Regions from separate parts of the Homo sapiens genome. Here region 2 is linked to region 1. The links come from fine-mapping of genetic effects on gene expression. Tissue or cell type: nasal epithelium. Region 1 holds a variant in brackets; the other region holds the start of a gene. All regions are shown on one strand. Distances are between the middles of the regions.

Region 1 (8,107 bases):
ATTAGCTGGGTGTGGTGGTGCACACTTGTGATCCCAGCTACTTAGGAGGCTGAGGTGGGAGGATCACCTGAGCCCAGGAGGCAGAGGTTGCAGTGAGCAGTGATCACACCACTGCACTCCAGCCTGGGCGACAGAGTGAGACCCTGTCTCAAAAAAAAAAAAAAAGAAAAAAATAATTGGCCAGGTGTGTTGGCTCACGCCTATAACCCCAGCACTATGGGAGGCCGAGGCAGGAGAACTGCTTGAGCCCAGGAGTCAGAGAGCAGCCCTGGGCAACAGCGAGATCTCGTCTCTACAAATAATTTAGAAATTAGCCAGGTGTGTGGTGCGTGCCTGTGGTCCCAGCTATTCAGGTGGCTGAGGTGGGAGGATCACCTAAGCCCAGAAGGTTGAGGCTGCAGTAAGCTATTATCACACCACTGCACTCCAGCCTGGGTGATAGAGTGAGGCCCCGGGTGACAGAGTGAGGCCCTGTCTCAAAAATAAAAAATAAAAAAAAAATAGAGAGAAATTGCTTCTAGGCCACATATCCAGTGCATTTCTGGAGCCTCACTAATTTATTTATTTTCCTGACTCCACTCTTCCTCTTCTCTGATCTATATGAATGCTTTTGACAGACTAATCTTTCTAGAACACTTGTATTATATCACTGTCAAGAAATTCTCCTTAAGAACCTACAATCTTTGTTGCCACTTTGGAAATGTGAAATAGTTTTAAATAGTAACAGCCTATACATAAGACAGCTTGTTAGGCAAGACAGTAATTTTTTAATCTTAAGAGTAAGTCTAGGTCAATGCGATGAGCTATAATAAGCAACAGACAGGCCGGGCACAGTGGCTCACGCCTGTAATCCCAGCACTTTGGGAGGCCGAGGCGGGCGGATCATGAGGTTGGGAGATTGAGACCAGCCTGGCCAACATGGTGAAACCCCGCCTCTACTAAAAATACAAAAATTAGCTAGGTGTGGTGGCACATGCCTGAAATCCCAGCTACTCGGGAAGCTGAGGCAGGAGAATCACTTGAACCAGGGAGTCGGAGGTTGCAGTGAGCCAAGATTGCACCACAGCACTCCAGCCTGGCGATAGAGTGAGATTCCGTCTCAAAAAAAAAAAAAAGTAACAGACAAGGGAGTGAGGAATCATCATTCTAGCCTACCCTCTACATCTAACCAAATCTGTGAGCCTCAGTTGTTTATTTTGTAAAATGAAGAAGGTAGCTCTTTCCTGTGTGAAATCTGTGGGCTAGAACAGGACATCTCTTTTAGTTTCTTCCAGTTCTAAGGATGATGACTTTAAAAGGCAAACTCTAAGATGGGAGGATTGCTTGAGGACAGGAGTTTGAGACCCCATCTCCACAAAAAATAAAAACAAAAATTAGTCAGACGTGGTGGCATGCGCCTGTAGTCCCAGCTTCTCAGGAAGCTGAAGCGGTAGGATCGCTTGAGTCCTGGAGTTTGAAGTTACAGTGAGCTATGTTGGTGCCACTGTACTCCAGCCTGGGCAACAGAGTGCGATCCTGTCTTTAAAACAAAACAAAACAAAACAAAACAAAACGAAAACAAAAACAGAAAAACCTCCCCTGCCTGTTTTTTAAGACCGTCTATAATTTAATTCCCCCCACCAACCTGGTCATTTAACCCCCCTAATGCTTGCTTCTCTCCATTGAGTTATTTTCTCTCTGCATCCTCGATGAGGCTGAGTGTCATCTGACCCTGTGCGTATGCTGCTCCCTTCCTCTCTGCCCATCTAAGCACCGTGGCGACTGGTAAGGGGCAGCCTGAGCTGCCTTGGAGAATTTGAAGTATTTTGAAGGACTCACCTGGTTCTGCCACATAGAAGCCCAGTGAATTTAGTAATGTGGAGATGACACAGAGCCCCTCAGTGGGGCAGATGTGAAGATTAAGCAAGATAACACTTGGAAATATTGCTTTGTAAAATGCCATCACCACATCATTTAGTCCTATAATTACTTCATGAGTTATAATAGTTTTGTTTCCCCAGTTAGCTGGCTGGCTGGATTAACTGGTAATTGATTGAGTCAGTCAACAATCTTCACATAAGGTAAAGAATCATATGAAGTTGCTGATGTTTGACTGCTTTTGATCTATTAAAAAAAAACCCAGCAATTTGCATGCAAAGCCATGTAAAGTACTGTAAAAATACTTGCTATTCTTTCCACTCAACTTGATCAAATCCTCCAAGGCAGAGGAAGCTAAGGTCTGAGAGTGAGAGTTTAAATCACCTCACTGATGGGAGGTAAAGGCCACATTTTCTTTCAGCAGTATTTGCAGTGATTTGAGGGGAAAACCTACACCCAGAGGAGTGGCACATTCTAAACAATGACCACACCCTTTGGGAAGGCTGGTCCCTGGGGGATGGGAGTGACAGAGCAGCATGTGGCTCCAAGCTGGTATGAGGCACTGAAGAGTTGGAATTCTATCTGTATCTCAGCCTGTGATTTCATCCGCATCACCCAGAAGACTCCTAGTATTTAGAAGGATAGATCTGAGACTAAGGTTTTGGGCCTCCTTACTTCAACTTTCTTTTTTTTTTTTCTTTGGAAATGGAGTTTCACTCTTGTTGCCCGGGCTGAGTGCAGTGGTGCCATCTTGGCTCATTGCAACCTCCGCCTCATGGGTTCAAGTGATTCTTCTGCCTCAGCCTCCTGAGTACCTGGGATTACAGGTGCATGCCACCATACTGGGCTAATTTTTTTGTATTTTTGGTAGAGATGTTGTTTCACCACGTTGGCCAGGCTGGTCTCAAACTCCTGACCTCAAGTGATCCTCCTGCCTTGGCCTCCCAAAGTGCTGGGATTACAGGTGTGAGCCACCATGTCTGGCCTCTTTTTTTGTCTGTTTTTTTTTTTTTTTAGATGATCTTGCTCTGTTGTCAAGACTGGAGTGCAGTGGCATCATCATGGCTCACTGCAAACTTGATCTTCCATGCTCAAGTGATCCTCCTACCTCAGCCTTCTGAGTAGCTGGGACTACCAGTGTGTGCCACCAGGCCCAGCTAATTTTTTATTTTTCGCAGAGGCGGGGTCTCACTATGTTGCTCAGGCTGGTCTTAAACTCCTGGGCTCAAGCCATCCGCCTGCCTTCCGCTCCCAAAGTGCTGGGATTACAGGTGTGAGCCGTTGCACCTGGCCTCAACTTTTCACGAGGGAACTAGAGACAAGCCCTTTATTTAGCCAAGAGTTTAGAAATCCAGGTATTTTCACTATTTCCATAGAATTTAGTCCTTGTCTGAACTGTGTCACTGTGCAGCACGTGGAGGGTTTTGTGGGGAGAGAGAATGTGAGTTTTGACATCAAACAGATCTGGTTTAAAATCCTGTCTCTGCCCTTTACCAGATATGTCATCTTGGGGAAATTACTTAGTTTCTTCAATTCTCAATTTTACCATCTGAACAATGGGATTAAAAAAACGCTAGAATTTTCATGAATACTAAATGAGATAATATTGGAAAAATGGCTGGTATATTATCTGACATATAGTAAGCCCCCAAGTGGCAGCTATTATTGTTATCCTAATATTATTCTAAAATATGAGGGTGAGCAGACTAGGTCATAATATTTATATGTGAGTTTTTCAAATAAGGGAAGCTTTACTTGGTGATCCTGGTGACTTTGCTCTAGGCCAGGCTGTTCAACACAGTTGCACATCAGGGCGGTGGTGCTTGTCGGAGTTCAGCTCCCCTTGTGAGGTGCTGCATGGCTCCAGTGTGAGCCTGATTCGGCAACACAGGGCTTCTATTAACCACACAGCCCCCTTATTACTCAGTCATGTCTTCTGTTAAGCACACAGTCCCCTTATTACTCAGTCATGTCCTTCATTCCGGACTGGGTCTGGGATGCCATCCCCAGACAGGGTTTAACTCATGGAAAAGTCAACCAATGTCTCTACAATGTGCTGCATGGACCACGGATCACAAGGTTGGGACATCCTAGTTTCTACTGACCAACTCCATCAAGCCGGAGGAGCACCAGCTTGGCCCCTTTATGCACACTGTGGAACAGTTACTTGGGCTCCAGAGGGAGTCTGGCGGTTGCATGTTCCCTGTTTCCTTCCATCTTCATTTCTGCATTGTGAGAGGGCAGTGGGTCTGGCTGAGAAGGGGGTGCAAAGCTGGGAGGGTGGGCGGGGAGCTTGGCCCAGGCCGACCTCCCTTGCCTTTGTAAGGGCTCTGGGAGGAAGGAGTTCTGCTGGGCCCCAGTTGCCCTCCTCCCTCCTTGCCCCCATCCACACTGGAAGGTGCCTTTCGGAGGAGCTTAGTTTAATGAGTTCCTGGGCTGAACCTCTCTGGACTGCTCCCACTCCTGTGGTCACTAACAACAGCACACTGGGGAGTGGGCGGAACTCCGAAACCAAGCCCATCTGTTTTGTCTCTTTAGATTCAAGACAGATGTTCCCACAATCTGGCGACAAAACTGCAGTCCTTGGAGAGACTGTGGGTGCCCTGAGTTTGCGGGTGGGGATAGGGGTCTACTGATGTGCAGTGACAGCGAGGTGGCGGACTTCTCCAGCTTCCTTGCAAAGCCCTGGGGAGCCAGGGCAGGCCCTGCTGGAATCCTGCAACAGGCGCCGCACCCTGCCATACACCTTCAGCAAATACGACAGGAA[C/T]GTAAAACTTCCTGCCCTAATCCGTTTAAACTTAAAGCCTAGTAGGAGGTCACTATAGTGTTAGATTTTTGGGTCTGTTTTTTTTTTTTTCTATTTCAGAAAGATTTGTTTGTTTGTGAAGATCTTAAGGCCCAAATACCGAGAGCTAGAGTCTGTGCTGGTAAAATGAAGGCTGAAAATGACAAATGTTAGAAGTGAGCAAATAAGTTTATTATATATAATAGAAAAAAGCAAAATGTTAAATTTGACTTTGCGATGCATGGAATAATCTGCTGATGTTGGATGATGATGCCACCTCCTTGAAAACTCCCTTTCTAGGGAACAATAATTGCTAACATTATTGGGCACATATGATGTGGCAGGCTCTGTTCTATTATAAATACTTTTCATGTATTAAATCGTTTATTCCCCACGACAGCCTAATGAAAAAATGACTATTGTTATCTCTACTTTCTAAGTGAGGAAACTGAAGCGCAGCATGATTAAGCAACTTGCCCAAGGTTGCAGAGCTCATAAACGGCAGATCTGGGCCCAGGCAGCCTGGCTGTGTGCGCTACCCCTAGCAGGCTGCATTGTCTGTCCAATATAAGGCCTGTAAGATCGTGGCCAAGTCCTTCAAACTCCCTTTCTAGGGTACTTTCAAAGTACAGCTTTGTACTTCTCCTCTCCCAGTCCCTGAGCAAGAGTAGTGGGGTGGGCATGTTAAATACTTATGAGTAAGTGAATGCATTAATGCAAGATTTATAGTATGGTCAGCTGGTAGCAGCAAACCTTTTCTGTTAAGAAGCCCTTCCATGTTTTATCCAAAATACTTGCCCTTCTTACCACAGTAGCCCATGGCTAGTTACTCATTAGCTTCCTAGTACCTATGGGCCTTTTCCTATTCCAAGACCCCAGCTCTCTCCTTTGCTCTCATCAGCACAGTCCTCTCCTCACGTGTCCCACTTTGAGTTCTTCCTAAGATCCAGCACAAAAATACTCGGATGGGATTTCCATTTAACATGGCTTTTCATTACATGGTTTTGCTTATTACACGGATCAAATCAAGTTCTGAAACCATAATTACATTGGGAAAGGCTGCTCGCCAGCCCCAGAGTCAGTAGGGAGGGTGGAGTTGTGGGTGCACTGACAACTTTTCAGTGAAAACAGTTAAGACTGTGTTATCTCACAGAGGAAGCAGGGAAGCTGTGACTATTCTTCCCATATTAGAGATTAGAGAACATATGTAGGAACATATTAGGAACAGAGATGTGGCTTGTCCAAGCTTCCATGGGTGGAGCTCAGGGATCTCCTGAATTGTGGCTGGAGCCGCAGATGGAAGGCCTTCCTCTTCCTACTGTGTGGCAGCCTCATGACTTCCTAGACATCTCTGCCTCTCCCCTAACCCTCTCAGGCCATTCCTTGCCCTGGCAGATGGCTACTGCCAAGATTCTACCTTTGCGGAGGAAGGAAGGCTATGATGTATTTGTTCATGCACTGGTTCATTCATCCTGACTTTTTTCGCTCTTTCACAGAACCAGACAGTGGGGCAAAATCCAAGGTGGTGCTGGAGCGTCTCAATTCTATGGGATTCTCCTGTCAGCTCAGGATCAGAGTCATCCCATAACGAAAAGCTTTTCTACCATTTGCCTGGAACTGGGGCCTAGACCAGATGACATGGGTCTCTTCCAGGTCCCCCAGATGCTTAGGTTGGGTCCAAGTTACACTGAAAACGGTCCAGTGAATTTCCAGTCTGGTCCACACCCATCATTCCTGGAGCTGAGTGACTCAGGGCTCCAGAAGATACCTCAGTGCTAAGTCATCATCCCCGAGAGAAGAATGTTTCACGTTCAGGGATTCTGTCACCTGTGCTCTGGAAGCAAGTTCTAGGCCTTTTCACCCCAGCTTTCACTTTCATCCTGGGGTTTGCTATGGGAGCTGGCATTCTGCTACCCCATTTCCAGCTCTAGTGTAGTGACATTGCTGCGTTCTGTTTAGACTGTTTAGTGGGTCATGGCATCCTTGACCACCTCCTCCCTTTAGCCAATTTTTGATTTATTAAACAAAGTAGAGAGAAGAAACGTAGATGGCGTACATGGGATTTAGGGTATGGGGCTGTCTGCATGGCCTGGAGGCTGACCTACAGGAGATTGTGGGCGCAGCTCTCACTCACATGTTGTGGGTGTGTACACACCACATGGCTCAGCCCTCATTCATGGATCCTTCGGGTCTCAGTCCCCATTCATGGATCCTTTGGGTCTCTGTCCCTTGTGCTTTGATGCTACTGAGCTCTGGAACTTTAAGTCCGTAGCTGAGTTCTGTTCTGCCCACAGGTGACGCAGCTTCTGAATCTGAAACGCTGCTCTGGGTGATTTAGCACTGAGGTATCTTCTGAAGCCCTGAGTCAAAAATCTTTTCAGCGACTCAGCCATAGGCATCTAGGAAGACAAGCTTCCAGATTCACTGAGAACAGACTGTATGTACTGACATGCTGACATTAACTCCCATTCCCTGTAGGGACTTTCTCATGTGGAAGAGCAAATGCTGAGTGCTGGCAGGACCCTGGCAGTTTGATGATTTCCAGTGTTACCATTAGTCACTATGTGTACATTCTGAAGGTCCTCGTGTGGCCACTGCAGGGCACCAGCCTTTGGAAACAAATACACAGCTTTTGAGAAGCTGCTCATCTTTCATATATATGTGTCTAACTTTGATACACAATACATGTATATTTTTATTATATTAATAAATCATAAGTAACCTAAATGTCTACCCACAAGAGAATGATTAGATAAATTGTGGTGTACCCATAAATGGAATAATCTGTAGTCATTAAAAATCAGGCTTGGCAAACAAAAACATAAAGTGCGGAAAAGACTGCCTGTTCAACAAATGGTGCTGGGATAATTGGCTAGCCACATACAGGATAATGAAACTGGATCCTCATCTCTCACCTTATACAAAAATCAACTCAAGATGGATCAAGGACTTAAATCTAAAGCCTGAAATTATAAAAATTCTCTAAGATAACATTGGACAAACCCTTCTAGACATTGGCCTAGGCAAAGATTTCATGACCAAGAACCCAAAAGCAAATGCAACAAAAACAAAGATAAATAGCTAGGACTTAATTAAACTGAAGAACTTTTGCACAGCAAAAGGAACAGTCATCAGAGTAAACAGACAACCCACAGAGTGGGAGAAAATCTTCACAATCTATACATCTGACAAAGGACTAATATCCAGAATCTAAAAAGAGCTCAAACAAATGAGCAAGAGAAAAACAAACAGTCCTATCAAAAGTGGGCTAAGGACATGAATAGACAATTCTCAAAAGAAGATATACAAATGGCCAACAAACATATGAAAAAATGTTCAACATCATTAATGATCAGGGAAATGCAAATCAAAACCACAACATGATATCACCTTACTCCTGCAAGAATGGCCATAATCAATAAATAAAAAAATAATGGATGTTGGTGTGGATGCGGTGAAAAGGGA
Region 2 (8,107 bases), 270 kb before region 1:
CCACTGCACTCCGGCCTGGGCAACAAGACGGAAACTGTGTCTCAAAAAAAAAAAAAAAAAAAAAAAAAAAGATTATAGAGAAACAACCAAATGATTTTTCTAATGATAAAGTCTTTTAGACTTTATCTGATTAAAGAAAGTCTGATTAGCAGACTGTGAACTGCTAATCAACAGAATCTGGAGACATGCCACTAAATCTGAGTCACTGTCAACATGTGAGTCCACACCTACAGGAGGGGTGGTTCCTTGTATGAAAAACAGCCTCAGTAAATCACTGAAACTCTGCTGGCAAACATTTTTAATGCAAGTAATGCACCTCAATTTCACCCCCCTGCTTACAATCCTGTTTGAAACAATTCCAAACAAATGACCAAGAAACCACTTTGGACCAAAAGAAAGCTGGTATCTTACAGTAACAAATACTGTAGCTTGAATGCAGTTCTCCATGAGAAATTAGTGAAAGGGAGCATCCATTCCCTTAGAAATCAGTTAATATTGCCATTAATAAGAGGTTGGGCAACTGGGCACGGCAGCTCACGCCTGTAATCCCAACACTGTGGGAGGCCAAGGTGGGTGGATCACTTGAGGTCAGGAGTTATGGCAAAACCCTGTCTCTACTGAAAATACAAATATCAACCAGGCATGGTGGTGGGTGCTGGTAATCCCAGCTACTTGAGAGGCTGAGGCATGAGAATCACTTGAACCTGGGAGGTGGGGGTGGGGGTTGCAGTGAGCTGAGATCGCGCTGCTGCACTCTAGTCTGGGCAACAAGAGGGAAACTCCGTCTCAAAAAAGAAAGAAAGAAAGAAAAGAGGTAGGGGAACCCTTTTTTATAGAGCTTTGCTCAGGAACCAAAAATTCAAGTTTATTTTAAACCTTTCGTCTATGCTTGAGGTATCTGGATTTCTGCTTTTAATATCATATTGTAAAGATTTAAAGAGAAAACATCTCTGTAGACATTGTTAATTTTGTAAATACTGATGTAATTTCTTGTGTTTTTCCATATCATCTACTGAAACTAAATAGCTCAGAATTAAAAAAAAGAGCCCTTTTATTTTGCCAGTCTATAAAGCTTCTGATGACAGGTAGAAGAACCTGGTGGTTAAGGACTTAGGTTTTGAGGTCGGTGGATGTGAGATTGAATCGTGGACAGGTTTTGAGGTCGGTGGATGTGAGATTGAATCGTGGACAAGATCTCAGTTTGTATAAAGGCATGTATATCGGCCTCATTTATACATATTCTTAGAGGGCTGTGAGAAGTAAATGTGTTTATATGTATAGAATTTAGTACCCATGGCCAGGCGCAGTGGCTCATGCCTGTAATCTCAGCAGTTTGGGAGGCCAAGGCGGGTGGATCACTTGAGGTCAGGAGTTCGAGAGCAGCCTGGCCAACATGGTATGAAACCCCGTCTCTACTAAAAATACAAAAATTAGCCAGGCATGGTGGTGCGTGCTTGTCAATCCCAGCTACTCAGGAGGCTGAGGCAGGAGAATTGCTTGAGCCCAGGAGGCAGAGGTTGCAGTGAGCTGAGATTGCGCCACTGCACTCCAGCCTCGGCAGCAGAGCGAGACTCTGTCTCAAAACAAAAACAAACAAACAAAAAAGAATTCAGTACCCACGCTGGCTCAGATGTTGATGGTTACTGTTGTGAATCTGGCTCTACGGGGACCAGTCACTTCATCACTCTTTAAAGACAAGACACTCCTAAATTATCTACCAGGCCATTTTATTTAGAAGGCCTTAACATGATTGATACATTTAATTTAATTTTATTTTTTTGAGACAGAGTGTTGCTCTTGTCCAGGCTAGAGTGCAATGGCACCATCTCAGCTCACTGCAACCTCTGCCTCCTGGGTTCAAACGATTCTCTTGCCTCAGCCTCCCAAGTAGCTGGGATTACAGGTGCCCGCCACCATGCCTGGCTAATTTTTGTATTTTAGTTGAGATGGGGTTTCACCATGTTGGTCAGGCTGGTCTAGAACTCCTGACCTCAAGTGATCCACCCACCTCGGCTTCCCAAATTGCTGAGATTATAGGCATGAGCCACCTCACCTGGCCGATGCATTTAAATGTGGGATTAAATATTCACACCTAGTTCAAGTGTTCACATCTGTACTTGAAACTAAAACTTGTTAACAAGGCATAAATACTGTATTAGTCTGTTTTCATGCTGCTGATAAAGACATACCCGAGACTGGGCAATTTACAAAGGAAAGGTTTATTGGACTTACAGTTCCACATGGCTGGGGAGACCTCACAATCATGGCAGAAGGTAAGGAGGAGCAAGTCACATATCACGTGGATGGCAGCAGGCAGAGAGAGCTGGTACACGGAGACTCCTGTTTTTAAAGCCATCAGATCTCGTGAGACTTATTCACTATCATGAGAACAGCACAGGAAAAACTCATCCCCAAGATTCAATTACCTCCCATTGGGTTCCTCCTAGGACACATGGGGATTGTGGGACTTACAATTCGAGATGAGATTTGGGTGGGGACACAGCCAAACCATATCAAATACTGTTTAATTTGAGTCTAGGAGAAATCTTAAGGCCTTAAACTTAGACTTTATAAAAGCAGAGGCTAGCTCCATCTGGACTGTTTATTCCTTCAGAATATTATGCCTACTTGTATTCCCAATGCCTGACTCAGGGCTCTCCCATAGTCAGTGCTCAATGAATATTGGTAAGGAAAAAAATGGTTCAGTGAGGAGATTTTTGCAGTAATTCAGGTGACTGATGACATTTGACCTTTGTGAATGAATCTCCAATTCTGCAATTGGGTGGATTCTCTGCCTATAGGTACAAGAGGAAGAGGACGAGAAATATTTCCTGTTCTCTCAATAACTTTCCAAATAACATGTCATAAGAAGCCTCCTCATTCTACTCTCCAACATATTAAAAGCCTAGGATTGAGCCAGGTGCAGCGGCTAACGCCTCTAATCCCAGCACTTTGGGAGGCCAAGGCAGGCGAATCTCTTGAGCTCAGGAGTTTGAGACCAGCCTGGGCAACTAAGTGAGACCCCCGCCCTGCCAACCCCCTCTACAAAAAATACAAAAAGTTAGCTGGGCGTGGTGGCATTTGTCAGTAATCCCAGCTACTCAGGAGGCTGAGGTGGGAGAATCGCTTGAGCCTGAGAAGCGGAGGTTGTAGCGAGCTGAGATTGAGATTGTGCCACTGCACTCCAGCCTGGGCGACAGGGCGAGACTCCATCTCAAAAAAAAAAAAAAAAAAAAAAAAAAAGGCATAGGTCCATAGCCCTTTAGAACTGGAAGAAGCCTTCTAGGCCAAGCCCTTCATTTGAACTGAGCCTTGACGGGTATTAGCCGTTAGCCATTTGTGGAAGGTCGCACAGTAGTCAGGACTGGAAGTCTGGTCTTTGAAACCTGTCAGTCCACGGTCATTTCACCTGCCTGTTTGTAAAACAATGTCCTGTTACTTAAGTATACTTTTTAATAAGAAAAACTGGGTGTAAGCAAGAGTATCAGAGTGGTGTTCTGGTGCCAGCAGTTCAACTTCTGCAGCGTGTACTTCACAGGCACAGGTACTTAGGACGTCGCACAGGCACAGGTACTTAGGACGTTGCCCCGCCGAGACTGTCGTTCATATCGCGCCCACCTCCGGGTAACGCCGGTAATGCTGACCTAGCTCCATTATTTGTATTAATTTATTTAGCTAGCAGGGGGAACGGCTGGGTAATGCAGTCTCAGCTGCTGGAGGGGAAGAGGCAAGACTCCGCCGGCGCCCACCATCAGAGCGTGACAACAAGCGGGACCGGAGGTTGGGAAAAAGCACAGGGACAGAATGAATGTGTGCATGGGGGAGCTCTGCTGGGGAGAGGGCAAGAGGCTGTGATCAGATTATCTGAGGTTTCAGAACTTTTATATAAAGACCAAGGAACCAAATGAAAATCCAACTCTTCCAGGGAGCCCTGGAAAGTTCAAAGGACCTCGTTTGAGGGAGCGAGTCCCCGCAGCTCGTGCCCACGTCTCCCTCGCGCTTCCCCCAGGACAGGGGCCGCCCCAACCCGGGCACGCTGAGCCCGGCCGCGCCCCTAGCCCCTTCTCTCTCGGCCTCCTCGTCCCGAAGGGAAGCACAGGCTCGAGCAGCATTCGGGGCTCATCCATCAGCCGCGGAGGCAAAGGGGGAGGAGAGAGGAGGCGGGAGGCGGGAGGCGGGAGGAGGAGTTTCTGGGCGGCCGAGAGCCCCCGGTGGGGCCGGCGGAGGAGCGCCCTTCCCCCCGCGCGCTGATTGCTGTGGCGTCCTGCCCGTCCCCGCCCGCGTGTGTGCGAGGGAGGGCGAGTGCGCCGGGTCGGCCTGATGGGGGTAATCGAGGGTTTCGGGGACGCCGAGCGGCACTTTCCTCTTCCCAGCGAGTGAAGGAGGGCAGTCGGCGGCTCTCGCGCCCCGGCCACTTTCCCTGCGCGATTCCCGGAGCTCCCTGCAGGAGGTGAGAGTCCCCAGCGGGTCCGGATGGCGTAGTTTTGCCGCGGCGCAGCAGCTGCCGGAGCTCGCCGCCGCCGAGCGCTGGGCGGGGAAACTTGCCGCCGCTTTCCTCCAACTTGCTGCGGGTGGATCTCCGCTGGACACACCGCCTCCGAGGTACGTGCCGGCCCAGCCCCGCGGCGCTGCAGCCCGCCCGGGCTGTGGGCTCTGCAGGCTGCGCGGGTGCCCGTCGGCGCGGCGCGGGCTGCCAGTGCCTACTTACCGGCCAGGGTCGCTCCAGCCGCCAGGACCTCCGGCCTTGGGAGGGAGGCGCTGGTGGGGCGGTGTTTACCCTCCGGGGAGCAGGCACCGGTGGCCAGCGGTGCGTGGGCAGCGGCCGCACGGGGCAGGCAGTGCCCCCGGCGATGCGCAGTGCTGGGGAGGAATTCTCCACGCCCGCCCTCACTCTTCCTCTCCGCGGGTCCTTCTGACCCCTGCGGGGCGCGGCGGCCACTTCCCTCCGGGCGCGTGACAGCTTCGGTGGGAATGGTTTGTTGTGGGTTCGCAGTCAATTGCCGTGGCCCAGGCTGTGGCTCCCGGACTCGTGCACGGACGCGGTTTGCGTTCCCCGCTGGCCGCGCCCTCAGGGTGCCTTGCGGGCTGAGCCGCAAGCTGCAGCTCGGCCCCCCCCCGCCCCGGTTTATTTTGAAGGCTCTCTTCTTGTATTCATTTGGTTAGGACAAACTTGGAAATCTTGGACTGTCGCTAGAAGAATCTGCTTGCAGACTTGATCTTATTAGGGCATTTGCCCCGCTTTGCAGAATCGCATAGTGTCAGGAGCCGACGTGTCAAGCATGAATTACCTTGGCAAAGTAGAACTTAGTGGATTTGGTGTCCTCACGAAAAGCTGGAAGAAGAAAACCGTTCCATTTCCCTAGCTGTGAAGTGAGGATAGTAGTACTTGCCCCGTAAAGTTGCTGTGAGCATCTAATGATTTAATGTGTGTGAGGTGCTACAACAGTGCTTGGCACCGAGTAAGCACCGCACGGAGGTTAGCGCTGCTTGCCGCTAGCCCTGCGGTGGCAGGATAGGAGCGGCGAGGGCAGAGGATAGTAGGAGTGACAGGCTGTGCTGGGGAACCAGGCGTATTCTGAGTTTTATGTCCTTCCGAAGAAGTGAGCGGTTTGGGAGAAGTCTCCACAGGTAGTAAAAACACACGTCAAGACCGTTTCTTCTTCCTGAATGCAGAGTGCAAACAGTTACTTCAGTGTGAACTCAGTTGTTTCTTTTGGATAATAATAACAGCTAACGTTTTCTAAGCCCATACTGTGTGCACTTAATCCTCACAGCATCTCTATGGGAAAAGCACTATTAATAACCCTATTTTACAGATAAGACACTAGAGGTTAAGTTACTTGTCCAAGATCATACATAACTTTCTGTTAGTTCTGACTCCAAAGCTACCTTCCTTCCTCAGCGGAGAGCGGCAAGTGCAGGCCGATTTGTGTGTACATAGATTTGTGTGCATAGTCCATGCATCTTCTCCCATCTTTCAGCTTTCTATTTGAGCTGAACGCATATCTCTTGAAACACACATAAGGTATCTGTGATGAATTTAGGCGATTTTACATACTTATGAGGGTGCCCAATTAAAGTTCCTCTGAAACTGGCCCCAAATAATTATAAATAGAACTCTGACTTGTATTAATTAACATGGAAATTTTTTTTTTTTTTTGGTGACAGAGTCTCGCTCTGTCCCCAGGCTGCAGTGCAGTGGTGCGATCTCGGCTCACTGCAACCTCCACCTCCCGGGTTCAAGAGTTTCTCCTGACTCAGCCTCCAGAGTAGCTGGGACTACAGGCGCGCGCTACCACGCCCAGCTAACTTTTGTATTTTTAGTAGAGACGGCGTTTCACCATGTTGGCCAGGATGGTCTCGATTTCTTGACCTCGTGATCCACCTGCCTCGGCCTCCCAAAGTGCTGGGATTACAGGTGTGAGCCACCACGCCTGGCCAACATGGATCTTTATTCTTAATTTCTTTTATTAATTCTCCAGACATTGTTGATCACCATTACTTGGCTTCCTTAGGAAACAGCTTGGGGTTGGCACAGGAGGCAGGGAAATAATTCTTACCCCCTTAAGGGCTATTAACATGAAATTGATTTCATGCCATTGTGTCAGTTAAAGGATGTTGCTCTATTTCTTGCTGTTCTTTGCTTTTGGCTTTATTTCTGCATTGTTTAGTGTTTCAAGGCTTGAGCGTTTTTTTTTTTTGGCCCTTCAGTTTGACATTTGTCAACTTTAATTTTTCCTGTTTTGATGGAATCTGACCGTTACACGGCAGCTTTGCCTAACAACTGTTGATTCAGCTCATGTTTTTAAATATAAAAATCACCAACATAGTTTTGAATCCCAGCACTTCAAAGGCAACCCGTGGGGAGTTCATTGTTATTTTGAATATTAGTCAATAGGGGGAGCATAACACACTGTTGATATCTATAAGGCGCATAAACCCGTTTTTAGAGTATTAAACATATAGTTTGAAAGGGGAGGGCAAAATATCTAGCAAAATAACTAAGTTGCTTTTGGAGTTTATAATGGAGGACTAGATTTAATTTGAACTGATTAAGAATGACCTTGAGGACAGGGCCTGTATGTTGAATATATGTCAAGAACTCCATGGTGGCTGGACAGATAGATAAACACACATATAGTTTTTTTTCAATTTGTTTCCTTAAGTGGTGTGTAGGCCAGGCACAGTGGCTCACACCTGTAATTCCAACACTTTGGGAGGCTGAGGTAGGAGGATCACTTGGCCAAGGAGTTCGAGACCAGCCTGGGTAACATAGTGAGACCCCCATCTCTTTAAAAAGTGAAGTTTGTATGTAAACTAATTTTGTGTGGTTTGAATAATATTTCAACTTACCTGGGAGAAATGGAAATCCAGAGGAATTTGTTGTGAATCCTTTTGTAATGATCCTCATTTGTGTTTTGTAGAAAACTGAATATAATGAATTTGTTCTCAGGGAGGTTGGTGTGTTCACAATCCTGTCATCATCTTTCATTAACATCTTCTAAGTGCAAGACAATAGGGGATCAGTAATCCTAAATAACAGCAGTTCTATTACTGTGAATTCCTCAGAGGCTTACGTTAATATTCAAGTATAGTAGTAGTTCAGATGTATCATATTTGATACTAGTATAAGTGTGATGTGTCTATGAATACTCATACTTGTAAACATAAACAATAAGAATATGCTTGAAAAAATCACACTTGACATTTATCTATTTATTTATTTATTTTTTGAGATGGAGTCTCTCGCTCTGTCGCCCGGGCGGGAGTGCAGTGGTGCAATCTCAGCTCACTGCAAGCTCCACCTCCCAGGTTCACGCCATTCTCCTGCCTCAGCCTCCCCAGCAGCTGTAACTACAGGCACTCGCCACCATGCCCGGCTAATTTTTTTGTATTTTTAGTAGAGACGGGGTTTCACCGTGTTAGCCAGGAAGGTCTCGATCTCCTGACCTTGTGATCCGCCTACCTCAGCCTCCCAAAGTGCTGGGATTACAGGCGTGAGCCACGGTGCCTGGCCAAACTTGACTTTTAAAAAAAGTTTTTGGCTGGGTGTGGTGGCTCACGCCTGTAATCCCAGCATGTTGGGAGGCCGAGGCAGGTGGATCAC

The links. PIP is the estimated chance that this variant, and not a neighbour inherited with it, causes the effect.
Region 2: TGFBR3 starts here. The variant in region 1 is fine-mapped to the expression of TGFBR3 in nasal epithelium (TOPMed, PIP 0.92).

The regions. Positions count from the first base shown.
Region 1 is chr1:91,608,058-91,616,164 of GRCh38, reverse strand. No RefSeq gene overlaps it. Among named protein-coding and RNA genes, the nearest start is that of CDC7, 110 kb to the right of the region's middle. RefSeq lists enhancers at 3,924-4,423, 4,424-4,925. The variant C/T (reference allele first, on the strand shown) is at 4,625.
Region 2 is chr1:91,882,373-91,890,479 of GRCh38, reverse strand. It overlaps TGFBR3 (transforming growth factor beta receptor 3), which reads left to right and starts at 4,329. Exons shown (of 17, transcript NM_003243.5): 1 at 4,329-4,602. RefSeq lists silencers at 4,063-4,202, 4,553-4,632, 4,643-4,852 and enhancers at 3,995-4,757, 4,758-5,521.